Linked DNA regions of Homo sapiens: all the other regions are linked to region 2. The links come from fine-mapping of genetic effects on gene expression. A gene starts in region 2. Each other region holds a variant in brackets. All regions are shown on one strand. Distances are from middle to middle.

Region 1 (4,085 bases), 26 kb after region 2:
CCACGTCCTGGGTCGTGCCCCAGTGCAAAGCCGGCTGTGGGCCTTGTCTGCTGAGTCGGGCTCTCACGTTGGCAGGGCTCACTGCGGTTTTGAAGTCCAAACTCTCCGTCATAAGCCTCTTCTGCCGGTCCTATCTCTGGTGAAGAGGTGAACCGTAGGCGGGGCAGGGGGGCTGCTCTGAACTTGCCTCTCCATGCTGCAGCCCACCTCCCTCTGGCAGTGGGGTGGCCGTGCTGGGTCCTGGGGCAGGGCCTGGAGCCCCGCCAGCCCATGACGCATTTCATGAGCCCCCACCTTTTGATATGCACATGCAGCTGAGGCTACCCTGACCCCACATTCAAAGTCGGAAATCCCCAAAACCCAAGACCTTTTGAGCACTGATGGGCTCGGGGTGCACACAGAACATTTGGGATTTCACTTTTTTTTTTTTTTTTTTTTTTTTTGAGACAGAGCCTGTCGCCCAGGCTGGAGTGCAGTGGTGAGATCTCAGCTCACTGCAACCTCCGCCACCCAGATTCAAGTGATTCTCCTGCCTCAGCCTCCCGAGTAGCTGGGATTACAGGCAGGCACCACCACGCCTGGCTAATTTTTGTATTTTTAGTAAAGACAGGGTTTCAGCATGTTGGTCAGGCTGGTCTCGAACTCCTGACCTCAGGTGATCCACCCGCCTCAGCCTCCCTGAGGTGAGGCTAGGATTACAGGCATGAGCCAACACACCTGGCCAAGTGGCAGTATTTGAAAAAAGAAAAGCAGAGAAAAATGCTCAACCTGTAAGTATAATGCAAATATAGTGTCCAAACTCCAAACAATCTGAGCTCCAAAACACTTTTCTGGTCCTGCGCGTCTCGGATGAGGAACACGCGGGCAGGGCGTGTTGTTTTGTGGAAAGGATCTCATGTTCATAGAAAGCTGCACCCGCAGCATGAGAGTCCTCTGCATCCTTTGGGAGGCGCTGACCACCCTGAGCTCGCTTCTGTGTCTCCTGGAACGCAGGTGTCCTCCCAAGGTCAGAGTTGGGAAAGACACGCAGCCAGTGGATCTCAGATCAGAGGATGCTGCAGGGACAGACCTCACCCAGGGCAGCCTTCTTTGGCCCGGCACAGCTCCCGGGCCTTCCCCGACCCCTGTGACCTCGCACCTATGAGGGCTGCCGGCCCGTCCTTCTGTGGTCCATGCCCCCGGCCTGTCCGCCTGCACCTTCCTCGTGATGGGACCTCGGTTCTGTGTCTTCAGCAGGCAGTTTTCCATCTTCGCCTGAGTCACCATCTAAACACCTGGAGACTTCACGTGACGTTCTGGATTTTCAGAGTCACTGCTTATACCTCAGGCTGTGCTGGCCCAACTTGGAGAAGCTGTGCCCCCAGGCCCAGGAGGCAGGGCATCGCCAGCCCACAGCCACAGTCAAAACCCTCCGAAGGAGGTCAGAGGACCCACGCCACCCCAGTGAGGGGCAAGGACCTCTTCCCTTCTTCCTTCCACCCCAGGGAGGTCAGCCTGGAGGCCCAGGGTCTCTCTTGAGCCACACGGCCGGGCCAAGGCACTGGCTGCCCTTAGCGTGACCCAGGCTTTTGACCAAAAACACACAGCCCCATGGGTGCTATACAACGCCTCTGCATGGGAGACCTCCGAGGCCAGGACACACCCTCTCCAGCTCCCATGATACAGGAAGGGAAACTGAGGCACGGTGTCTTAGCTCAGCTTGCCGTGACAGGCTGCTGTAGACCATGCGGCTTCCACATGGGTGACCTCTGAGGCCAGGACACACCCTCTCCAGCTGCCGTGTTACAGGGAGGGAAACTGAGGCACGGTGTCTTAGCTCAGCTTGCCGTGACAGGCTGCTATAGACTGTGCGGCTTCCACACAGGCATTTGCTTTCCCACCAATCTGCAGGAGTCTGAGGTCAGGATGCCGGCAGGGTCAGGTTCTTAGAGGCCCGCTTCCTGGTTCAAAGCCAGCACCTTCTCACTGTGTCCTCACAAGCCCGAGAGAGAAAGTGCTGGTCCCTTCACCCCCTACCAGGGCACCAATCTCATTGTGGGGGCTCCGCCCTCACGACCTCATCTAACCCAAATCGCCTGCCAAAGGCCCCCTCCTAACACCATCACACTAGCGGTCATGGTTTCAAAATGTGACTGGTGGCCGGGCACGGTGGCTTATGCCTGTAATTCCAGCACTTTTGGAGGCCAAAGTAGGAGGATCGCTTGAGCCCAGGAGTTCAAGACCAGCCTGGGCAACACAGCAAGACCCCATCTCTACTAAAAACTTAAAAACCACACACACAC[GCA/G]CACACACACACACACACACAAAGATGTCTGAGGAGACACAGACATTCAGTGCATAACATCCAGGGTGGATGGGCCAAGGCTGCCCGGTGGGTGGGTGGCCCCAGATCCCAGCCGCACCTGTCCCTCCCTGCCACCCTCCTGGCCTCCTTCAGAAACCCTGTGGGGAGTGGATTGTGGGGGCTTAGGAGGCTCTGGCGGGAGGCAGATCACCCCAAAGCAGCATGAGTGACAGCTAAGATGCCGGGCCTGCCCTGCGATCTGCGACTGCAAACTCACTGAATCCTGGCAGCGACACTGAGCGGAGGGACTGGGTTACTTCTGTTTCCCAGATGAGGAAACTGAGGCCCAGAGCTGGCAGAGAGCTGTCCGAGCCCAGGTGTTCAGGGAGGGGCGGAGCCAAGTGTGAAGCCAGCGGGCACACTCTGAGGTCGGGCTGAGAGCAGCACTCCCTTGCCCAGGCGGAGGGACCGCAGGTAGCAGGACACTCTCGTGGGAATCCTAAGGACGCCAGAGCACACCGCTCCGGGGCAGCCGAGCTGGACCCACAGGTGTGACTACAGCGCAAGCCAGGGCCGCCCCTCCCAGCTCCCGGGCCGTTTTTAGGGCGCCGTGGCTGCAGCGGGGCGGCTGGCTCTGGGCTGCTTCACCCCAAGCTGTGATGGGCCAGGGTGGCTCTGCACCCCGCCCCCCTGAGCCCAGGCCAGGCAGGCAGGACCCCCGCTGCGGCTGAGAAATGGGAGGAGCCGAGGAGACAGAGCCACTGCTGGCCACACTCTCCACCTCCACCGGGTCAGGGTCCTTCCACCGTGACTGCAGGACAGGACCCCCACGGCTTCTCCACTTAACAGCAGCAGGATCCTTGCCTTCTCGCTCGCTCTGTCACCCCCAGTCTGTTTCTCTGTCTCTGCCTCTCTCTGTCTCTGTCTGTATCTCTGTCTGTCTCTCCAACTCAGTCTCTATCTTTCTCTCTCCTTGTCTCTCTGTATCTCTGTCCCTCTCCCTGTCTCTTGTCTCTCTGTCTCTCTCCCTGTCTGTCTCTCCTTGTCTCTGCCTGTCTCTGTCTCTATATCTCTGTCTCTCCATCTGTCTCTCTCCCTGTCCCTGTCTCTCTCTGTCTCCCTCCCTGTCTCTGTCTCTCTGTCTCTATCTCTGTCTCTCTCCCTGACTCTCTCTCTCTGTGCCTCTCTGTCTCTGTCTCTCCTTGCCTCTGCCTCTCTGTCTCTATATCTCTGTCTCCCCATCTGTCTCTGTCTCTCTGTCTCTATCTCTGTCCCTCTCCCTGTCTCTGTCTCTCTCCCTGTCTCTGTCTCTCTGTCTCTCTCTCTCTGTCCCTCTCCCTGTCTCTCTGTCTCTGTCTCTCCTTGTCTCTGCCTGTCTCTGACTCTATGTCTCTGTCTCTGCATCTGTCTCTCTCTATCTCCCTGTCCCTGTCTCTCTCTCTGTCTCTCTGTCTCCCTCCCTCTCTCTGGAGGTTGCCTGGCCTCCGCCGCTGGTCTCCCCTGCACTTGCACCATGGTGGGGGGCCTGGCTTGCTCCTGTCGTATGGCAGTTGGCGCTGGCTCTGGCAGGAGCCTCCATGGGGCCTGGGCTCCTCCCAGCACTCGGCTGGTGCCATGCAGGTGCCTGCATTTCTGTCACTCTTTTTTTTTAGACGGAGCCTTGCTCTGTCACCCAGGCTGGAGTGCAGTGGTGTGATCTCGGCTCACTGCAACCTCCGCCTCCCGGGTTCAAGCCATTTTCCTGCCTCGGCCTCCTGAGTACCTAGGATTACAGGCACAGGCCACCACGCCTGGCTAATTT
Region 2 (4,085 bases):
TACAGCCGCTTTGGCTGGGTCTCTGCTCTGGAAACCAGGTTGTCCTGATGCACTTGGTCAAAATCCCGGATGAGGCCAGGTGCGGTGGCTCACGCCTGTAATCCCAGCACTTTGGGAGGCCAAGGCGGGCTGATCACCTGAAGTCAGGAGTTCAAGACCAGCCTGGCCAACATGGTGAAACCCCGTCTCTACTAAAAATACAAAAATTAGCTGGGCACGGTTGTGCACGCTTGAAATCCCATCTACTCAGGAGGCTGAGACAGGAGAATCATTTGAATTTAGGAAGCAGAAATTACAGTGAGCCAAGATCGTGCCACTGCACTCCAGCCTGGGCAACAGAGCAAAAAAAAAAAAAAGAAAGAAAGAAAAAACAATCCGGGATGTCCTGTGAAAGTCCCCACCTCCTACAGGTGATCCCATCAGTCCGAACCAAGGTCATCTGAAGCAGGTGTGGAATCACCCTGTTCAGACCGGGCCAGGGAGGCTCTGAGGGCAGCAGGGACAGGATGGGCCAGAGTACCCAGGGAAGCGGGGGGGGGGGGGGGGGGGTGGTTGGGGGGAGTCGGCCCTCACAGGAGGGGAGGGGCACCACTTCCCTGAGACCAGTTCTGGTAAAAGGGGCCGAGCCTCAGTTTCCCTGTCCGTAGAATGAGACCTCAGTCCTGACAGTACCAGCTGCGATTTGGGGTGGTGGAGCAGGAGGGCCTGGGAAGGAGGGGAAGCCATGCTGTCCAGCACGAGGAGAAGCTGAATAAAGGCAAGGGTTACCCTTGAACCTCACCCCCTGCCCTCTCCCAAGATCTCCCACTCGGTGGGCAGCCTGTACGCAACTTGCACGAGTTCAATCCACACAAGCGCCTGCTCGGGCTCTGACCCTGGCTCTGCCGCTTGCCCGCTCCAGGACCTCCCATAAGTTACTTCATTTCTTTGGGCCTCAGTTTCTTTGTCTGCGAAATGGAAATCATAGTTTTCATCTCATAAATGTTGTAAGTAAATGAAATTATTTATGTAACTCCTGGGCATGTGCCAGGCACACGCTGCGCTCCAACAAACATTACAAGTTAACATTCTCGCTCCCAGGCCCGCAGGGACCGCAGAGCCTCCGCCGAGGACCCCAGCCCCCCCAACACCCGCCCTCGCCCTCCAGTCCCCCGCGCCCCCCAAGCCCCACCCTCCCTCTCCCGCGGTCCGCGGGCTCCACCAAGCGCCCACCTGCTGCGCTGCGGCGGCGGCTCCGGGGCCTGAACCCGGGTCTGAACCCGGGCCTCGGCGCCGTGGGGGGTGGACCCGGGAGCGCGGCCGGAGAGGGGAGTCAGGGTCAGCTCCCCGCAGGCGCCCCGACCCCCGCCTCCGCGCCCATCCCGCGCGTCCCCGCCGCCCCAAGAGCGTCCTAAGACACCCGGGGAAACGCCTTCCCTGTGATGCCGCGGACCCAGTCCCGTCGCGGACACGGCGGGGCGGGCGGGGGTGGCAGCGTCCGAGGCGGCGCGGGCCCTTTAAGGCGGCCGGCCTCGTTAGCATACATTTGCATGGCCCCGCCCCGCCGCTTGAGGCTGCCGCGCGGGGCTCAGTCCGGCGGGGGCGCCGCGGAGAGCGGAGGGCGCCGGGCTGCGGAACGCGAAGCGGAGGGCGCGGGACCCTGCACGCCGCCCGCGGGCCCATGTGAGCGCCATGCGGCGCCGCGCAGCCCGGGGACCCGGCCCGCCGCCCCCAGGGCCCGGACTCTCGCGGCTGCCGCTGCCGCTGCTGCTGCTGCTGGCGCTGGGGACCCGCGGGGGCTGCGCCGCGCCCGCACCCGCGCCGCGCGCCGAGGACCTCAGCCTGGGAGTGGTGAGCGCGCGGGCGGGACGGGCGCGGAGCTCCTGGGCCGGAGCCGGGGGTCTCCGCGGGCCGGGTGGCGGGGACCGGGAAGACCCCAGCAGTGCACGTCGGCGTCGCGCGGGAGCCCTGGCGCCCTGGACCCATTTCCTGGGTGGGGAGACTGAGGCAGGGACGCGGGCTGAGCGACCGGGCGAGCGCACGCGAGTCCTGGGGAGGCGCCGGCTGCCGTCCCGGCTCCGTGCGCTGGGAGCGCGCCGCAGCCGCAGGAGCCCGTGGAGTTGTGAGGGGGTCGCCCACCCGGAGCCCGGGTCGCCGGCTTGCAGCAGCCCCGGAGCAGCCGGGCTGGGCGAGAGCAGGCATCGCGGCCGCCCCGAGCTCTGCGCGCTGCGTGCGTTCCGGGTGGGAGTGGCGGGGGCAGGAGCACGCACCCACAAAGCGAGGAAGGGCAGGGGCTACGGAGTGGGGGCACCCCGAAAGCCTTGAGCCCCCGAGTTTGCTCGGTTGAGGGTGTTGGGGGCACAGGGATGCTGGCCCCCAGCTCCCCACTGGACAAGGACCTGGCCCTCAGCCTCCTTCCCCTCCACCCCAGGTCGGCCAGGCTGGCCCTGCCTTGCCCTGGTACAGTGCTGAGCCGGGGGCGCGGGGAGAGCCTTCCTCACTCCACACCCAGTAGCTGTCCCCAGCTCAGCTTAGAAACCCTGCCTGGGGGCAGCGACGTGGCCTCTTCCTACAGCCCCCTCCCCTGTTCCGCAGCCGGGACTCGCGTCTCCTGTGGACCCGGAAGATTTAGAGCACACGTCGTGGGGTCAGCGCCCCCCCGCTGGGGCGGCCGGGTGAACTCCCGCTGGGTTCGTTGGTTCCTTCTGAGGCTCCTGCCCCACCGCTGCCTTCAATGGACTCCTACCCAGGGAGTCGGGCCAGGAGCCGAGGCCTCCCCGCCCCACACAAGTACTCGGCCTGGCCCTCGTCCGCGGACAGTCTCCCAGTGGGGTCCTGGCAGGGCCCCTCGCCCAGCGCAGTGGACATTCAGGAGCTCCAAAACCTTGGGGTCCAAGCAAGTCAGCGCAGGTGTATTTCAGGCAGTCGAGGCATATGGAGGGGCCACTTGGGTGGCACCCGCAGCCCCTGTGGTTGGCAGGACTTGGCCAGGGGGTCTGGATGGGAAGCCGATTTGGCCACCGTTTGCCCCAGGCCCCGAAGCCATCTGGGAGGGTGCTGGCCACTGTCCCTGCTGCCCGCGTCCAGGTGCCTGCAGGTCCCCACAGTGGCTTCCTTCCAGCCAGGCAGCCTGTGAACTTGGGGTGCCCCCCTCCACCTCCTCAAGACCCTTTTGTAGGTGCGGATCTCCCGGATCCCCCACTGAGAATCACGCCCTGGGGGCCTGGGGTCTCCAGCTGTGGAGGGAGGTGAACCCAGGCCCGCCTTCCAGGTCCGAGGGTGCCGCAGAAGGGGCCGGGGCAATGCCAGGGAAGGACTCAAGGTGGGGCCCACACACTCAGGAGGATGGACCCCCGGCCGAGCCATGTTGGCTGATCAGACCCAGTGCGGTTTGGAAGTTTCTCGCCACCCACCTGCCCCCCTGCCCGGAGAGAGTGGGTCAGGCGCCCTCCTCTCGGCTGGTACCTGCGCCTCGGTCTCTCCTGGCACCCCGGGGGTCACCCGCCCCGCGCCCTGCGACAGCACCGAGCGGAGGATGTGGCTCCCCAGCCTGGCCGGGGGCAGTGAGTGGGGCCCCGGTGTCCAGCCGGAGAGGGAGGACGCTGCGGGCAGCCCCCTGCCTGGAGCCCCGCTCCGTGTCGGGCCCGGCCTGGCGTGGAGCCTCCGTCCTGCCGCGGCTTCCTGCTCACACTGGCGGTGCGGGGCGTCCTCTGCTGGCCCTCGGGGAACCGCGGGCCGAGCTCAGGCCCAGGGGCGGGCGGCTTCCCCGCGGGGAGGGACGAGGAGGCCGGGATCTGGGCGGGAGCGGGGACTCCTCCTCCGCCCGCTCGCCGGAGGCGCTCCCGGAGTGGACTGATATTCAGGTCTGGGCGCCAGGGACGAGAAGTGCTCCTTTGTCTCAGAGCTGCAGACAGAGCTGCACCCAGCAGGGCTGGAGCCGGGGCTGGAGGGGAGGGCCCGCCCCGGAGCGCCCCCCGTATGCACGTGAACAAGGCCGGGATTCAGGCTGCTGGGCTGCGGAGCCGGGCTTTCAGGAGCCCCCGGCGGGGACAAAAGAGCGCACTGTCCCCCCGGGGGTCCTTGGCGGGGCTGCTTGTCCTTGTGGG
Region 3 (4,085 bases), 210 kb before region 2:
AGCCCCTGGGGAGTGGAGAGGCCTCCGGGTGTTGCTTCTGCACGTGCTGTTCATGGACATGTGGCCTGGAAAGCAATTCAGGTTTGCTCTTGGTGAGCCTCGGAAGCTCCAGGCGGCCGCTAGAGTCTCAGACGTCGCCACCCACAGACCTCTTGGGTTTTGCCATCTTGGCATAAACAGCCTCGGTCCCGACCCCTGCCCTTTATTAAGCCCTCTTCAGTTAACCCGTCGTGTCCCTTCTGACTGCTGGGGGACTCCCTCAGATACAAGCTGTCTCCTCCACTGGAAGGTGAATGCCGTGAGCGCGGGGCCCTGGTTCAGCACCAGAGACAGCGCTGGCACCTCAAGAGACTCAGTGACATTTGCTGAATGAGTGAATGGACAAACGATGCTTCAACTGCGCAGATGCCATCCGCTCTTTCAGGAGCCTGGTCTTCCCACTTTAGCGACCATCTGAATCACGTGGGAGGCTGCAGAGACGCAAGAACCTGGGTCTCTCACACTCCATATTCTGATCCCAGGGTCTGGGCTGGGACCTAGGAATTTGCATTTTTACCTAGGCTCTCATACAGGCTTCTAATCTGATAGATAAAGTCTTCAGGAAGTCAGCCTCTGATAGACAAGTGCTATCCTCGGAAAACAGCATACACAAAGCTGAAAATAATTTCCCTTTCTGCCTCCTCCAAGGCTCAAGGCTTCTGAGAAACTGCTCGAAATTTTCTCAAAATGCATGCTCTATTTTCCACTCTCCTCCCCTCTCTGCATTCCATTCAGCCATCCCAAGAGGACCCACATGAGTCGCTGCTCCTTCGTTTCCTTATTCTGGAAACTCCTAAGACATCCTCTCTACACTGATGATTTTGCAGAGCGAAGGAGAAACAATAAACATCTTCCAGAAAGAATTTCTCAGTGACTGCAAACAAGGAGTGAGATTTGCATTCGGGGGGGCTGTTTGCCCTCAATGTGGGGAGTCGGCAGTGTCAGAACTTGGCAGTGACCCTGAAGACGTGGACAGGAGCAGATGGGATGTTTGACTTCACCTCCCTTTTGCTCCCCGATGCATTTCAGTGCAGGCCTGGTGTGCTGCACCAGCTGCGTGACAGAGGAGGAGACGAGGAGGAGGTTCTTGGGCACAGGAGGAGCGGGGCTGGGGTGAAAGCAGCCAGCCAAATGCAGGGGGTGCACTCAGCGGGGGAACCCAAAGTGTGTGGAGAAGAAAACAAAGTGCTCTCCAGGACCAGCCCTGCCCACGGCCTCCTGGCCCTCAGGGGGACTCACAGAACTGGCTCAACAGGTGCACACAGATGTGCACACACATGGGCACACAATGCATATACACATATGCATGCACACACAGAGACCCACGCACGCAGACCCAGACATACATACATGAATGCATATGTGCAGACACGTGCATGCACACAGACACACACACACACACACACGCACACAGTACTGGAATCACCACAACCAACATGCCACCTGCTTAATCCTGTTCGAAAGGACTTTCCTTGGCCTCAAGTTTTTCCACACCTGCCACACTCTGCAAACCTCCAAGAAGCCAGACCCCCCACAATTGGACAATGTCTGGTTCCTCACAGGAAGCTGCCATCACACATCTGGACAGCAGTGGGGCTCACCTTCTGGGAAAGCCTGCTCTCCTGCTGCAGGGGGAGGACTCACCAGACCCCAGAGTGGGAGTGTAGGATCGTGAATGCTGCAGAGCCCACATAGTCTGATATCCCGGCGGAGCAGGATCTGCTTCCTGGCTGGTGCAGCCACTGCCCAGCTCTCCTCTGCCCCTGCTCCACATGTGTGTCATCTGGGCTGTCTTGGAGGCAAGTGACAGAAAGGGGGCTTCACCAACGCCCTCACCTGAGCACCCTAAGAAGGGGCTGGCAGCATCAGGACAGGCCCAGGCTCAACCCTGCCCTCAGACAGAAAGCAGCTCAGCGGTTCCCCAGCTCAGACTCCGCAGCCAAACTCAATGTTCAAGACCCAGCTCTCCCACTTTCAAGCAGTGTGGCTTTGGTGGCATTGCTTAACCTTTCTGGGTCCCGCTCTCCCCGTCTGTGAAACGATCATGGTGAGGTGCCGTGGGGCTCTGATGAGGTTGCCCACGCCAGTACACACACAGCAGGACTTTGTGGATGGCTGGCAC[C/T]GCCCGGGCGTCACCCTCACCCGGCCCTGGCCGTCAGCTCACCATCCTCATCTCAGGCCCCCTCCTGTGCGGCGGCAGAGACAGGGCTGCACGCGGCTTCCATGGGCCCTGGGCCCTTTTGCATTCGTGGGCTCCTTCCTCCATAAAATCACCTTTAAGCTTCTATTTTACAACTGGTACAAAGATGAATAGGTTAATATTTCTTTGACCTAAGAGCTCATATTTTCTTCTAATTTTAAAAGAAATTAAAACATTTTTGTAGCCCTGGAAATCCTCAGGGCTCTTGCACTTTGCCTGTGTCCCTGATGGGGGAAGGCGGCCTGGAAATGGCCCTCAGAGAGCTCCTCTTAACTGAGCAACTGCGAGGCAAAGCCTCCCTTCCCCAGGGGTTTCAGAAAAAGTCCCGGGCACATTCTCATTGGACCAGCTTGGGTCACATGGCCATGCCTGAGCCAATCCCAGGACCACAGTATGAAATATGCTGATTGGGAGGCGTGGCTTCCCACCTGTGAATCACGTGCACCAAGTAGGGGTGACCTGGCAGAGAAATACAGAGACAGGCAGGTGAGTCCTGGACGGACCCTAGGGACATCTGTTGTCCCCCTCAGGACCACATAGCAGAGCATGATACGGTGCCTGTCCACAGCCCAGGGACCCTTTTCAGCGGGTGGCAGAGCTGGCTATCCGGGGAGGGGGCAGAAGTTCCAGTCTGGTGCACCGAGAGCGCCATCCCCTCACTGCAGCCCCGCCCAGAGCCCCAGGGCTGAGGCCAGACTTAACCGCTGGGACCCAGGCCTGCCCTGGGGCCACCTCCCAGGCCAGGCTCTGTTCCTCACTGGGGCACTGTCCCTGGGGGAGGCGGACACAAGGGCCCTTGTTGTTCCTGGAGGAGGAGGCGGCGGGGAGAGCTGTGCAGTCACTGTGGGCTGAGCCAGCACTCTCCATCCTCCCCAGTCACTCCCAGGATGGCCAGATCCCTCCCAGGCCTGGAAACTGCTCCTCAGCCTCTCCCCGGGGCAGGGGAGAGGGGGTCAGGGCTCCCCTGGACAGGGAGGCCCAGCATGGCCATTCCCGCTCACGTGCCCACTGCACGATTAACGCGCATTGCAGCAATTTCCAGGCTGGCGCTCACGAACGGTGCCGCTAAGAGCACTTTCTGGTGAACACACATGCCCCTGTCTGTGGTGCAGACACCCCGGAGTGGAACTGCTGGGTCGGGGTAAGTGGATCTTCAGCTCTGGGCGACGCTGCCGGGCTGCTTCCCAAGTTCCAGATCCACCACACCCCCAGGGGGTTCCAGCCTGCAGCGGGGGCTGAGACCCACAGCTCTGCTGTGTACATGAGAACACACACAGGCACATGCACACCTACGCGCATGTACACACATGCACTCACACGCACACGTTTCCTGAATTCACACACATGATATGTGGGCTGAGGCTGTGTACACACACATGCACATGGGCACACACAGGCACGCACCAAGTGTACACTCACATTTCCTAAGACCACACACGATACGTGGCCCAGGACTGCGTACAGCTGGCATGTCTGCTTGCCTGGGCAAGAGCCACAGCCTCCTCCTGGCTCTCCTGCTGCCGCAGCTCCTGCACTCCACGGAGCCTCGCCTGGCCACACTCCCTGCACGGGGCAGCTCAGGAGCCTCGGCCTCTGGCAGGAGAGGCTGCAGGGTAGGGGCTGGCGGGTGGCTGGGGTCCCTGTAGTCCGGCTTTTTTCCCTCCTCACACACTGCTCTCTGCTCTCCGCTTGCCTGGCCCCGAGGCAAAGGGCCCAGGGGTCGCTGGTGAGGAGGGGCTGCAGCTGGGCTGTCCTGGGGGAGGGAAGGAGATTATAAAAGGCCCTCAGAGAGCTACACAAGGTGGCCTTGTTTGGGGAACAGCCTCCCCCAGCCCAGGGTTCCCTC
Region 4 (4,085 bases), 87 kb before region 2:
GACTGGATTCGTTTTTTCCCTACAGCTTCTCCTTTTGAGTTATTTATTCGATTCATCTTTTCTTGATCATTTGAATTTCATAAACAAGTACGTTTTTACAAGGGCTGTAGTTCATGAATTCTGCCTGTCGAAAAATGCCTGCCTTTGACCTTTATGTGAACAGGACGGCTTGTCTGGGTATAAAACTCTTGGGTAATGCTGTGGGCCTCTCAGATCTCTGGGAACTAGAATCTGACACTGTCCTTTCCACTGCAGGGTGGCCCGGGGTAGCTGGATGGGTCATGACTACCTATTTGGGTTTGTTCATTGGTTGGTTTGCTTTCATTGCTCCTATGCTGCTCTCTGAGTTTTTTCACGCTTGAAAATCTTTCTCAGCTGCCTTTTAACATAAATAGCAATTTGCAGGGAACGATGCACCGAGTCGCTTGCCTAGGATTCAGAAGTGGAATTGAACGTTGCTGTGGAAAGGGCGAGGCCAGCCCTGTCTTCCCTACCTGCCCTGGGAGGTGGATGCTCTTTCTGACCCAACACATCTGAGGAAGTCTTGCTTTACCCTTAACTTTTATTAACTTAATTGCCCATTTTTCATGGACTATATTGTATACCTTTCAGTCAGAGATTCAGTTCTCATTTCTGGGAAGTTCTTTTCTGTTGTGCCTCGAGCACCTTTCCTGTCCCACGCATTGGTGCCTCTGCTTGAAGGACACAGTCTCTTGGTTCGGGTCACCTTTCTTCGAGCCTGTGCTCCCTGTGTTTCTCTTTGGCACTCAGCAGGACTGTGTCCATCTTCCCTGTCAGCGACTTTTTTCAGCCATGTCTATTTATTCCTTGTAGTTTAAATTCCATTGGTTTTGCAGTGGTATTGTTTGGATCCTTGGCTGGTTTTCTAAGCTTTACAGCAGGGCCCCACAGCCTTTCTATATAAAGGTGCATGTCTTCAGCCCTGCAGCTGCCCAGCCTCTATGCAGCCCCTGCTCTGTCCCTGGGGTGTGGAGGCAGCTGCAGATGGTTGTAGACCCATGAGTGTGGCAGGGCTTCACTAAAGCTTAATTGATGGATACGAGGCTTTTCATTTCTTTTTTTTTCTTTTTTTTCTTTTTTTTTTTTTTTTTTTTTTTTGAGATAGAGTCTCACTCTGTTGCCTAAGCTGGAGTGCAGTGGCACGATCTCAGCTTACTGCAACCTCCACCTCCTGGGTTCAAGCAATTCTCTGCCTCAGCCTCTCGAGTAGCTGGGATTACAGGCGTCCGACACCACGCTTGGCTAATTTTTGTATTTTTAGTAGAGACAGGGTTTCACCATCTTGGCCAGGCTGGGAACTCCTGACCTCGTGATCCACCTGCCTCGGCCCCTCAAAGTGCTGGGATTACAGGCGCAAGCCACCGTGCCCAGCCTAGGGTTTTAATTTCATACAATTTTGATGTCATAAAATATTATTTTGTTTGTTTGTATTTTTTCAACCATTTAAAAATGTAAAAACCAGGCCAGCCATGGTGGCTCACACCTGTAGTCCCAGCACTTTGGGAGGCCAAGGTGGGTGGATCTCTTGAGCTCAGGAGGTCAAGACCAGGCTGGGCAACATAGTGAGACTGTCTCTACAAAAAAAATTAAGAAAATTAAGTGACCATAATGG[C/T]GCACACCTGTGGTCCCAGCTGCTGGGGAGAGTGAGGTGTGGGGGTTGGCAGAGGGGAGGGCATCGAGGAGTTCCATGCTGCAGGGAGCAATGGTTGTGCCACTGTACTCCAGCCTGGGCAACACAGCGAGACTCTGTCCAAAAAAAAAAAAAAAACAGTAAACACCATTCTGCTGATGGCTGTACAAGAACAGGGAGAGCGCCTGCTGGACCCTGCCTCACAGCCTCCCCCTCTGTTGCATTTGGTTATGTTACCTTATTTTTGTGCTTTGTTGAATTCCTGTCTTCCCAGATTCATCTGTGGCTCAGAGAGCTCAAAGGTTCCTCGGGTCACATGCTCCTGTAGCCTGAGATGCCATTCACATGCCATGCTACTTCCCTCCGCTGCTTTTCCTGGGGGCGTGTGCAGGGTCTCATGCCGTCTGGTGCTCCTTCTTCCCTGGTGTGCAAGCCTGTGTGTTCTTGGTGTGGGTGGATTCTCCTTGATGCTCTCTCACCTTCTCTTAGCACCTTTTTCTTCCCTTCCAACAGCCTTCTTGGGAAGACCTATCCTCTGCTGTCTTTTGTGAGATTCTAAAAATGTCCTAGATTGGATTTCCTTCCCCCAGTGAGGGAACTACAGGGAGAGACGTTCTTGAGTATCACAGCATATGTGTCAGGCAGGGCCCCAGGTCCACAAGCCCCGTTCTCCTCACTGTCAGGATCCCCACGGCAGGTCATTGGCATTTCCACCTGCTTCTTTCCATGGTGGGGCCCAGGTCTCACTTCAGCCACTTGCTCTCTTTACCCACAACTCTCTGGAACCTATTTTTATGTAAGAAGTCTTCAAAACCTCAGTACAGCATTAAAAATTGAAAGCTTTTTACTTTGAGGGTCACTGATGAAAATGGTAAGTTATGTTTAGAGACAGGCTTTTTTTTTTCTAGAGGAAAGTTTTATTTGCCAGAAAGAGGTGACTTTTAAGCACAGTGGGCTAAAATTCCAAATAGCTGGTTAAATGCCCAAAACGGATTCATTTTGGTAGTTTCCCAGTTTGACAAATGAGTAATCTTGCATCACTACAGAAATCATTCAGGTTTCCCTAATCCAATTTGGTGATGTCAAAACAAGTCTTCTCTTGTTGGGGGACTTTTTTTTTTTTTTAAGATACTAGGTCGTCGGGAGGTTACAACAAAATACAGTGTGGTTGTGATGGACTGCATGTTAAGTGATTTTATTGTAAGTCTTGGCATATAAGAACCCATTAACAGATCATTGGAAACCATTCTGTGTTGTGATATGGATAGCCTCATGGTTTATATTAGTCTGTTTTCACACTGCTGATAAAGACATACCCGAGACTGAGGAGGAGAAGAAGAGGTTTAATGGACTTACAGTTCCACATGGCTGGGGAGGCCTCACAATCATGACAGAAGGCAAGGAGGAGCAAGTCATGTCTTACATGGATGGCAGCTGGCAAAGAGTTTGTGCAGAGAGACTCCTGTTTTTGAGACTATCAGATCTCATAAGACTCATTCACTATTATAAGAATAATGCGGGAAAGACCCGCCCCCATAATTCAGTCACCTCCCACCAGGTTCCTCCCACAACATGTGGGAATAGTGGTAGTTATAATTCAAGATGAGATTTGGGTGGGGACATGGCCAAACCATATCATCCCCTCTCACCCCTCCCAAGTCTCACATCCTCACATTTCAAAACCAGTCATGCTTTCCCAGCAGTCCCCCAAAGTCTTAACTCATTTCAGCATTAACTCAAAGTCCACAGTCCAACATCTCATCTGAGACAAGGCAAGTTCCTTCTGCCTACCAGCCTATAAAATCAAAAGCAAGTTAGTTGTTTTCTAAATATAATGGGGGTACAGGCATTGGGTAAATACAACCGTCCATATGAGAGAAATTGGCCAAAACAGAGGGGCTGCACAGGCCCTGTACAAGTCCAAAATCTAGCAAGGCAGTCAAATCATAAAGCTCCAAAATGACCTTTGACTCCATGTCTCGCATCCAGGTCACGCTGATGCAAGAGGTGTGTTCCCATGGTCTTGGGCAGCTCCGCGCCTGTGGCTCTGCAGGGTACAACCTCCCTCCCGGCTGCTTTCACAGGCTGGTGTTGAGTGTGGCTTTTCCAGGAGCACGGTGCAAGCTGTTGGTGGATCTACCATTCTGGGGTCTGGAGGATGGTGGCCCTCTTCTCACAGCTGCACTAGGCAGTACCCCAGTAGGGACTCTCTGTGGGGGCTCCGACCTCACATTTCCCCTCCACACTGCCCTAGCAAAGGTTCTCGATGAGGGCCCTGCCCCTGCCACAAACTTCTGCCTGGGCATCCAGGCATTTCCATACATCCTGTGAAATCTAGATGGAGGTTCCCAAACCTCAGTTCTTGACTTCTGGGCACTTGCAGGCTCAACACCACATGGAAGCTGCCAAGGCTTAGGGCTTCCACCCTCTGAAG
Region 5 (4,085 bases), 590 kb before region 2:
CCCAGCCCTGAGGATCAGAGCCATCTCTCAGATGGAGGAGAAGTCAACGCCTGACAGCCTTCGCTCATTTGACAGATGCTTCCCCTGAATTCTCCTCTTGGTAATAAAGTGGTCTCCATGGTAACTGTTGAGGCCTTGATGATGGATTAGACAGGCTATTTTTAATCATCCTGAAAACAATGTTGGCAGGCATGTAAAATCCTTCCAGAATCTTCCAGCTCAGCCGAGCCACCAGCAGGATGCAACTGAGGAAGTGAACCCAGGCAACGCCACAGCAGAAGAGCCACCCAGCTGGGCCCTGCCCAAGATCCTGACCACAGAATTGTGAGAAATGATGGATTACTGATTTTGTTTGAAGTGACAGCATTTTTTGGGTGGTTTGTTAAGCGGTGAGACGTGAGTCAGGACAGGTGGTACAGATTGGGCATGGCTGGGACTTTAGTCAGCCAGGAGAAGTTGTCCGGCATGGCTGTCCACCGGTCTAGGACCCAGGCCACACCGCCCTGCACCTGGTTACCTGCAGCTCATGTTAGTGCTGCCTGGCTGTGTGTGTCCCCTCTTTCTCATTAGGTGCTTTAGTGCCCTCCTGGAATGTCAGGATTTAATTTCCATTCAGCTTTAATAAGTCCTCCTGGACCGTGTGCTCACAACTGAAATTAATTTCTCCAGCCTGGCTTTGGCGATTTTCATCCTTAATTCCTCTGTGTCCCCAGGGCACCTCCAAGCATGTTGTCTTAATTCATCTTCTGTGATTCAACAAAGGGATTGTCCCAGCGTGGGGCACCCGCATGCCATGCACGTCTCACCGCAGCCACACCTGGGCCAGGTAGGATTAGTTCAGAACTGCTTTTGAGGGGCTGTTGTCATGGACACCAAGGGGCAGGTCCATTTCTGGTCACAGACGTGCATCCAGCTTCTGTCTGCAGCCAAATGGAAGCAGCTGCATTTGCTGAAGCCACAGGGGCCTGTGGTCGCCGGTCCTGGGTCATTTTGCCTGCCTGGCATTTGTTCCCTCTCCTTCCAGTAACAAGCCCTGATGGGCTCTGCGCAGCCACACCTTCCCCCTCAGCTGTCACAGCCCCGTTGGAATTGCTTTCTCCTGGGCCAAGCATTTCACAGAGGCTGCACCACTCAGCCCCTCCTAGTCCGCTGGAGAAAGTGGCTGAGGGGGTGGTGGGGGATAATTGCATTTCCAAAGTCCGGGCAATCAGCCAATGTAAACAGGCACCTGCGTCACTGTGTGGGCTCTCTAGGCAACAGGTAAAATACATCAAATACACACAATTTCCTGACATTCCAATGCATTTCTGCGTGAGCTGGGATGGGGGAGGCCGCTGTTCCTCTGGGCTGTTTCTCCTCTCAGCTCTGAGCCGAGCAGCAGGTGGGCTCCTGAATCCCCATCTCCAGGCTCAGGGCTGCTGGCCACCTGCCTGACAGCCCCTTTCTCACCCGAGCCAGGGGCTCTCTGCCCTGCTCTGCAGAAACCTCCCTGGCCTGGCCACCTGCCTGACAGCCCCTTTCTCACCCGAGCCAGGGGCTCTCTGCCCTGCTCTGCAGAAACCTCCCTGGCCTGGCCACCTGCCTGACAGCTCCTTTCTTTTTGTGTTTTCTTTTTTTTTTTTTTTTTTGAGATGGACTTTCACTCTTGTTGCCTAGGCTGGGGTGCAATGGCGTGATCTCGACTCACTGCAACTTTTGCCTCCCAGGTTCAAGCGATTCTTCTCCCTCAGCCTCCAGAGTAGCTGGGATTATAGGCATACACCACCACACCCGGCTAATTTTGTATTTTTAGTAGAGATGGGGGTTTCTCCATGTTGGTCAGGCTGGTCGGGAACTCCCAACCTCAGGTGATCCACCTGTCTTGGCTTCCCAAAGTGCTGGGATTACAGGTGTAAGCCACTGCGCCTGGCCTGACAGCCCCTTTCTCACCGGAGCCAGGCGCTCTCTGCCCTGCTCTGCAGAAACCTCCCTGGCCTGGCCAGCAGCCTCAGAGGCCTCAGAAAATGTCCTGGCTGCAGGTGAAAGAAGACGAGGGTGCAGCTTCCCCAGCGTGCTCTGAGCTCAACCCACCAGACACAACCCCCTCTCACGGTCACACGGGCCCCCGGGCTCCCCTGTGGGAAAGGCCAGTGGAAATGGCAGCATGGACGGAGGCATCCATGGCCCTGTGATGCATGGCTGTGTCAGTGGATGATCTGAGAATTCACCCGGTCCCCAGCACCCCATATCCGCCACCCCATCCTGCTGCTCTTCTCTTTCTCTCTCATGACCTTCTGCCCCTCTGGGCTCCTCACTGAGGACCACCAGGACTGTCCCCGACACCGATGCTAGCTGGGATGTCCGGGCGTCCCTCCCACAAGGTCTGTGCCTGGAGAGGGATGGGCACTGGTGTAAGGCCCACTATGGGGGGAGACCAAGGGCGGGCAGCTCACCCAGGTGCTGAGGAATCCAGGCAGAGCACAGTGTCCTTTGCTGCAGGGTCTGAGGGCTCTCTGCCCATAGAGCTGCTGCG[G/T]CTACGCACTGTTACATCTCCGGAAGATGTGCCTTGTTATGCTCTCAGTACTTATAAAAAAGGAATTCTCTGTCCACAATTTATTCCTGTGCTTTAAAAGTTTGAATTCCAGTGGAAAAGCAGCAAGAAGACATGAGCCTCAAGGATGGTTCTGGAGATGGGTCTGATGATTGTGCTTGGTCCACCAAAGCTTCCCACGAGAACAGCATGTTTGTTTTTGCTGACACCCCCAGCCCCCAAGCTCAGTTCCTCTCTTGGGAGGCTGAGGGGTCACAGGGTCCTGAAGTGTCCCCGGGCTCACACCCAAATGGAAGACCTGTTTTCCTCAGGAAGTAATCCTCGCCAAGCATGTCAGGTGTAGGATACCATATGTCAGAAGTCACAACAGGAGGCCGGGCACGGTGGCTCACGCCTGTAATCCCAGCACTTTGGGAGGTTGAGGTGGATGGATCACCTGAGGTCAGGAGTTCAAGACCAGCCTGGGAAACATGATGAAACCCTGTCTCTACTAAAAATACAAAAATTAGCCGGGCGCAGTGGCACATGCCTGTAAATCCCAGCTACTCAGGAGGCTGAGGCCGGAGAATCGCTTGAGCCCGGGAGGTGGAGGTTGCAGTGAGCCAAGATCAGGCCACTGTACTCCAGCCTGGGTGACAGAGTGAGACTCTGTCTAAAACAAACAAACAAACAAAAAAAGAAGTCACAACGGGTGATGAAAAGCAAAACAATTTCATTTGCATCTCTCCAGTTCTTAGCAGGCTTCCACTGGGCGCTGAGTTCCAGGTCTATATTTATTCACCATCCGTTAAGTCACTGAATTTGAATTACACACTTTTGAGGATTCTGAATGGGAAGAGGCACTCATAAACTGCCTGCGTGTATAATCCTGAGCCTTGTTGCTGTGTCAGCCCCATGAAAGCTTGTTTATTGGTAAATATCAAAATGCAACATTTCCCTCAACTTACCTTTAATCCTCTTTTTATTACGTTTTCTAGACAGGAATTTCTTCTTTCAAGGAAGGCTGTCATAGAAAGACATGTCACCTTGAGGCGTTCCTTACCATTGTCAATAGTGGAGGACACGTTGTCTCTCTTCTCTTCTGTTTCAGCCCCACTGTGGGTCCTGCGAGTCTGCACCTACTGTAGCTCCACCGTGCTGTTTGTGCTCTTCCACCTCAGCCTCCCTGGATGGCTCTTTAAGTCAACTTGCATTTCCCTAGGAGAGGTTATCACTTCCTGGGTAGCTGGGCAGAGCCTGGAGTCAGGCAGCAGGGGTGGAGCCCTGGCTCTCCTTTCACCGGATGTGTGGCCTTGATAAAATCTTTCCATCAGGCCTGGAGGCTCACACCTATAATCCCAGCACTTTGGGAGGCTGAGCCAGGCAGATCACCTGAGGTCAGGAGTTCGAGACCAGCCTGGCCACCATGGTGAAATCTCCTCTGTACTAAAAATACAGAAATTAGCCAGGCATGGTGGCAAGTGCTTATAAGCCCAGCTACTGGGGAGGCTGAGGCAGAAGAATTGCTTGAACCCGGGAAGCAGAGGTTGCAGTGAGCCAAGATCATGCCACTGTA
Region 6 (4,085 bases), 24 kb before region 2:
TCACGCCACTGTGCTGCCGCTTGGGTGACAAAGGGAGACCCCATCTTTGTTTTGTTTTGTTTTGTTTTGTTTTTTTTGAGATGGAGTCTCACTCTGTCACCCAGGCTGGAGTGCAGTAGCATGATCTCAGCTCACTACAACGTCTGCCTCCCGGGTTCAAGAGATTCTCCTGCCTCAGCCTCCTGAGTAGCTGAGACTACAGGTGCGCACCACCACGCCTAGCTGACCCCATCTTTAAAAATAAAATACTGGGTCAGGCACAGTGATTTAATCCCAGCACCTTGGACGGCCAAGGCAGGAGGATCACGTGAGGCCAGGAGTTCAAGACCAGCCTGGGCAACAGAGCAAGACTCCGTCTCTACAACAAATACAAAAATTAGCCAGACGTGGTGACACCTGTAGTCCTACCTACTCAGGAGGCTGAGGTGGGAGGATAGCTTCAGCCTGGGAGGTCAAGGCTGCAGTGAGCCATGAATGAGCCACTGCACTCCAGCCTGGACAACAAAGTGAGACCCTGTCTCAAAAAAAAAAAAAAACTGTAAAATTAGACTTTGCATAGTGTATACAAGACACATGACTGTGTGTATGACACTGTAGTAATTCCTCACCACCGGCCAGGCACACAGTGGCTCACGCCTATAATCCCGGCACTTTGGGAGGCCAACGCAGGAGGATCGCTTGAAGCCAGGAGTTCAAGACCAGCCTGGGCAACATGGTAAAACTCTGTCTACTAAATTGCAAAAATTAGCCGGGCATGATGGCGGGCACCTGTAGTCCCAGCTACTCGGGAGGCTGAGGCAGGAGAATTGCTTGAACCCAGGAGGCAGAAGTTGCAGTGAGCCGAGATCACGCCATTGCACTCCAGCCTGTGCGACAGAATGAAACTCCAGTCTCAAAAAAAAAAAAAAAAAAAAGTTTTATCACCGCTAGGGACTGTTATGTTAAACCCCGAATGTCTTACTTTATTGGTGATTGAAGAAATTTCCAAGGGTGACTTTGGCTGGACCCCTCACCCATGTGAGATGCAACCCCACCCTCCCTGGGCCTAACTCTCCTGCCATGGACATCTAGACAGCTTCCTGCCTTTCACTGTCGGCAAGGATGCTGCTGGGAAACTAGAGTTTTTCCCCTTTAAAAAGATTCCTTCTGGGGCCGGGCATGGTGGCTCGCGCCTGTAATCCCAGCACTTTGGAAGGCCAAGGTGGGTGGATCACTTGAGGCCAGGAGTTCGAGGCCAGGAGTTCGAGACCAGCCTGGGCAACATAGTGAAACCCCATCTCTACCAAAAAATACAAAAATTAGCTGGGCATGGTGGTGCACACCTATAATTCCAGCTATTCGGGAAGCTGAGGCGGGAGAATCACTTGAACCAGGAGGAAGAGGTTGCAGTGAGCCGAGACGGCGCCATTGCACTCCAGCCTGAGCAATAGAGTGAGACTCTGTCTCAACAACAACAACAACAAAAATATTCTTTCCTTCTTTAGGACAGATTTATAGTAGTTTTACTGTATCATTTCTAAGGTTCTTAAACTGTGCTAATAAAATTGTTCTCCAAAGATTGTCTCCTTCACCTGTGTTTAGTAAGGCTGGCTTTTGTCAGAAGCCATTTGCTTTGATGTTTCCTGGTGCGTGGCTTGGATCACTGCCCTGTGTGTCCCTGGGTGTGACCCGTGTCTGGATCGTTCAGCTATCTGAGCCCTAATGCAAGCTGAGAGGGCCAGGTCGCTCCACCAGCTTCACGGAACCAGACAGGCACTGGGGGCTGTGAGTGAGAAGGGGGCTAGGCAGGGAAAGGGCTTGGGAACGGGGCGCTGACGAGGCCAGGCAGGTCACTGGGTGGGAGGAGTCGCTAAGAATGCTGAAAACTTCCACCTCAGGGCCAACATTTGGGGTTTTACTTGGCTTGAATAAGTGATTCACTCACGTGGCTACACAGGAATTTCTTGTGAA[T/A]CCTTCCAAGTTCCTTTGTATAAATACAAGCAAATATGCAAATATATTCTCCCCCTCCAGCCCCAATACACATCTTTATACACGGAAAGTGTGTTATCATTTCCATTCTGTGCCAGCTTCATCTTGCTTTTGCAGTTACTGTATGTCTTAGAGTCATTTCCTTATCTGAACATAAAGAACTTCCCTATTTTTTTAATAATAAACTTTTTTTTTTTTTGAGATGGAGTCTCACTCTGTCGCCCAGGCTGGAGTACAGTGGTGCGATCTCGGCTCACTGCAATCTCTGCCTCCTGAGTTCAAGCGATTCTCTTGCCTTAGCCTCCTGAGTAGCTGGGACTACAGGCACGCGCCACCACGCCTGGCTAATTTTTATATTTTTCTAGAGATGGGGTTTCACCGTGTTGGCCAGGCTGGTCTCAAATTCCTGACCTCAAGTGATCTGCCCACCTTCGCCTCCCAAAGAATAATAACCTTTTTTAAGAACAGTTTTAGATTTACAGAAAAATTGTGAAGACGGTACACAGTTCTCATATACCGGCACCCAGTTTCCACTATATCACTGTATTAGCACCATTTTTTTTTTTTTTAAGTCTCATTGTGTCACCCAGGCTGGAGTATGGCGGTGCCATCTTGGCTGACTGCAACCTCTGCCTCCTGGGTTCAAGCGATTCTTCTGCCTCAGCCTCCCAAGTAGCTAGGGCTACAGGCAACCACCACCATGCCCGGCTAATTTTTGTATTTTTAGTAGCGACAGGGTTCACTATGTTAGCCTGGCTGGTCTTGAACTCCTGACCTTGTGATCCATCCGCCTCGACCTCCCAAAGTGCTGGGATTATAGGCGTGAGCCACCGCGCCTGGCAACACCTTACATTAGGATGGTACACTTGTTATAATGAATTAATCAATATTGATACATTATTATTACTGAAAGTCCATACTTCAGATTCCCTTTGTTTCCCTAATGTCCTCGTTTTGTCCCAGGATCCCATCCAGGTTCCCACCTTGTATCGAGTCCTATCTCCCTGGGTGCCTCTGGGCTGGGGAAGTTCTTCATTCTTTTCATAGCTGTGTAATATTCCATTTTATAAATGATGCATCGCTGATTCACCAGTTCTCTTCTGGGGCATATTTGGGTTGTTTCTGATCCTACTCTAACACTACTCTAAAAACCTTGTACCTAAGTCATTTCTCATATCTGCACAAACGTCTTTAGCATAAGCAAACGTTCAGCAAAGGCCAGATGGTAGACATCTTAGTATTTGCAGAGCATCCAGTTTCTGTTATTCAACTCTGCGGTTGCATAAAAGCAGCCAGAGACTACATGTAAATGAGCGGGTGTGGCTGTGTTCCAATACAATTTTATGTGTGAACCCTGAGATCTGAATTTCATAGAATTTTTACATATCACAAAATATTCTTTTTTCACAATTTTTTAAAATAAATTTGTTTCAAAATTAAAAGTGTATAACCTGGCCAGGTGCAGTAGCTCACTCCTATAATCCCAGCACTTTGGGAGGCCAAGGCAGGTGGATCACCTGAGGTCTGTAGTTCGAGACCAGCCTGGCCAACATGGTGAAACCCCATCTCTACTAAAAATATAAAAATGAGCTGGGTGTGGTGGCACGTGCCTGTAATCCCAGCTACTCGGGAGGCTGATGCAGGAGAATCATTTCAACCCAGGAGGCAGCGGTTGCAGTGAGCCGAGATCACACCATTGCACTCCAACCTGGGTGACAGAGCGAGACTCCGTCTCAAAAAAAAAAAGCATTTGTACCCAGAATAGCCAAAACACTCATGAAAAAGAACAAAGTTGGAAGACTCACAATTCACAGTTGGAAAACTTACTGGACAGCGCAGGGACCCGGACCGTGCAGAACTGACCGATGGGACAGAACTGAAAGCCCAGGCAATTCAGGGGAGAAAAAAGTGCTGATTCCGACAAGCGGTGCTGGGAAGGCACGTGGCCACGTGTAAAGAACGAAGCTGCATCCTTCCCTCACACCATGTGCAAAAGTGAACTCAGACTGGCTCAGAGGCCGACATGTAAGAGTGGAAGCTACGGACCACCGTTAGAAGCTAAACCTTTGCAAACGTGGTGGCCGTGGTGTCTTCAACAGGACCACAGAAGCACGAGC

Alleles and levels. Positions count from the first base shown, and alleles are read on the strand shown. Sizes are in standard deviations (SD) of each study's normalised expression. Not every link is listed here.
As copies of A replace T in region 6, the expression in monocytes after LPS of the gene that starts at base 1,570 in region 2 goes up (large effect, 1.2 SD a copy in Quach 2016).

The links. PIP is the estimated chance that this variant, and not a neighbour inherited with it, causes the effect.
Region 1: its variant is fine-mapped to the expression of MMP17 in whole blood (INTERVAL, PIP above 0.99).
Region 3: its variant is fine-mapped to the expression of MMP17 in whole blood (TOPMed, PIP above 0.99).
Region 4: its variant is fine-mapped to the expression of MMP17 in gastroesophageal junction (GTEx, PIP 0.93).
Region 5: its variant is fine-mapped to the expression of MMP17 in gastroesophageal junction (GTEx, PIP 0.97).
Region 6: its variant is fine-mapped to the expression of MMP17 in monocytes after LPS (Quach 2016, PIP 0.95). The same link has a PIP of 0.9 or more in monocytes after R848.

What each region holds. Positions count from the first base shown.
Region 1 is chr12:131,853,058-131,857,142 of GRCh38, forward strand. No RefSeq gene overlaps it. Among named protein-coding and RNA genes, the nearest start is that of MMP17, 27 kb to the left of the region's middle. RefSeq lists an enhancer at 2,877-3,428. The variant GCA/G (reference allele first, on the strand shown) is at 2,283.
Region 2 is chr12:131,826,824-131,830,908 of GRCh38, forward strand. It overlaps MMP17 (matrix metallopeptidase 17), which reads left to right and starts at 1,570. Exons shown (of 10, transcript NM_016155.7): 1 at 1,570-1,830. The coding sequence starts at 1,672. RefSeq lists silencers at 1,435-1,564, 3,554-3,813 and an enhancer at 3,297-3,906.
Region 3 is chr12:131,618,131-131,622,215 of GRCh38, forward strand. No RefSeq gene overlaps it. Among named protein-coding and RNA genes, the nearest start is that of LINC02414, 28 kb to the right of the region's middle. RefSeq lists an enhancer at 1-456. The variant C/T (reference allele first, on the strand shown) is at 2,162.
Region 4 is chr12:131,739,872-131,743,956 of GRCh38, forward strand. The region is part of intron 7 of SFSWAP (splicing factor SWAP); the gene reads left to right. Among named protein-coding and RNA genes, the nearest start is that of SFSWAP, 31 kb to the left of the region's middle. The variant C/T (reference allele first, on the strand shown) is at 1,634.
Region 5 is chr12:131,233,826-131,237,910 of GRCh38, forward strand. It overlaps LOC105370082 (a long non-coding RNA gene), which reads right to left. Exons shown (of 4, transcript XR_945559.3): 4 at 1-4,085. Among named protein-coding and RNA genes, the nearest start is that of LINC02415, 62 kb to the right of the region's middle. RefSeq lists an enhancer at 876-1,485. The variant G/T (reference allele first, on the strand shown) is at 2,513.
Region 6 is chr12:131,802,397-131,806,481 of GRCh38, forward strand. No RefSeq gene overlaps it. Among named protein-coding and RNA genes, the nearest start is that of MMP17, 24 kb to the right of the region's middle. The variant T/A (reference allele first, on the strand shown) is at 1,951.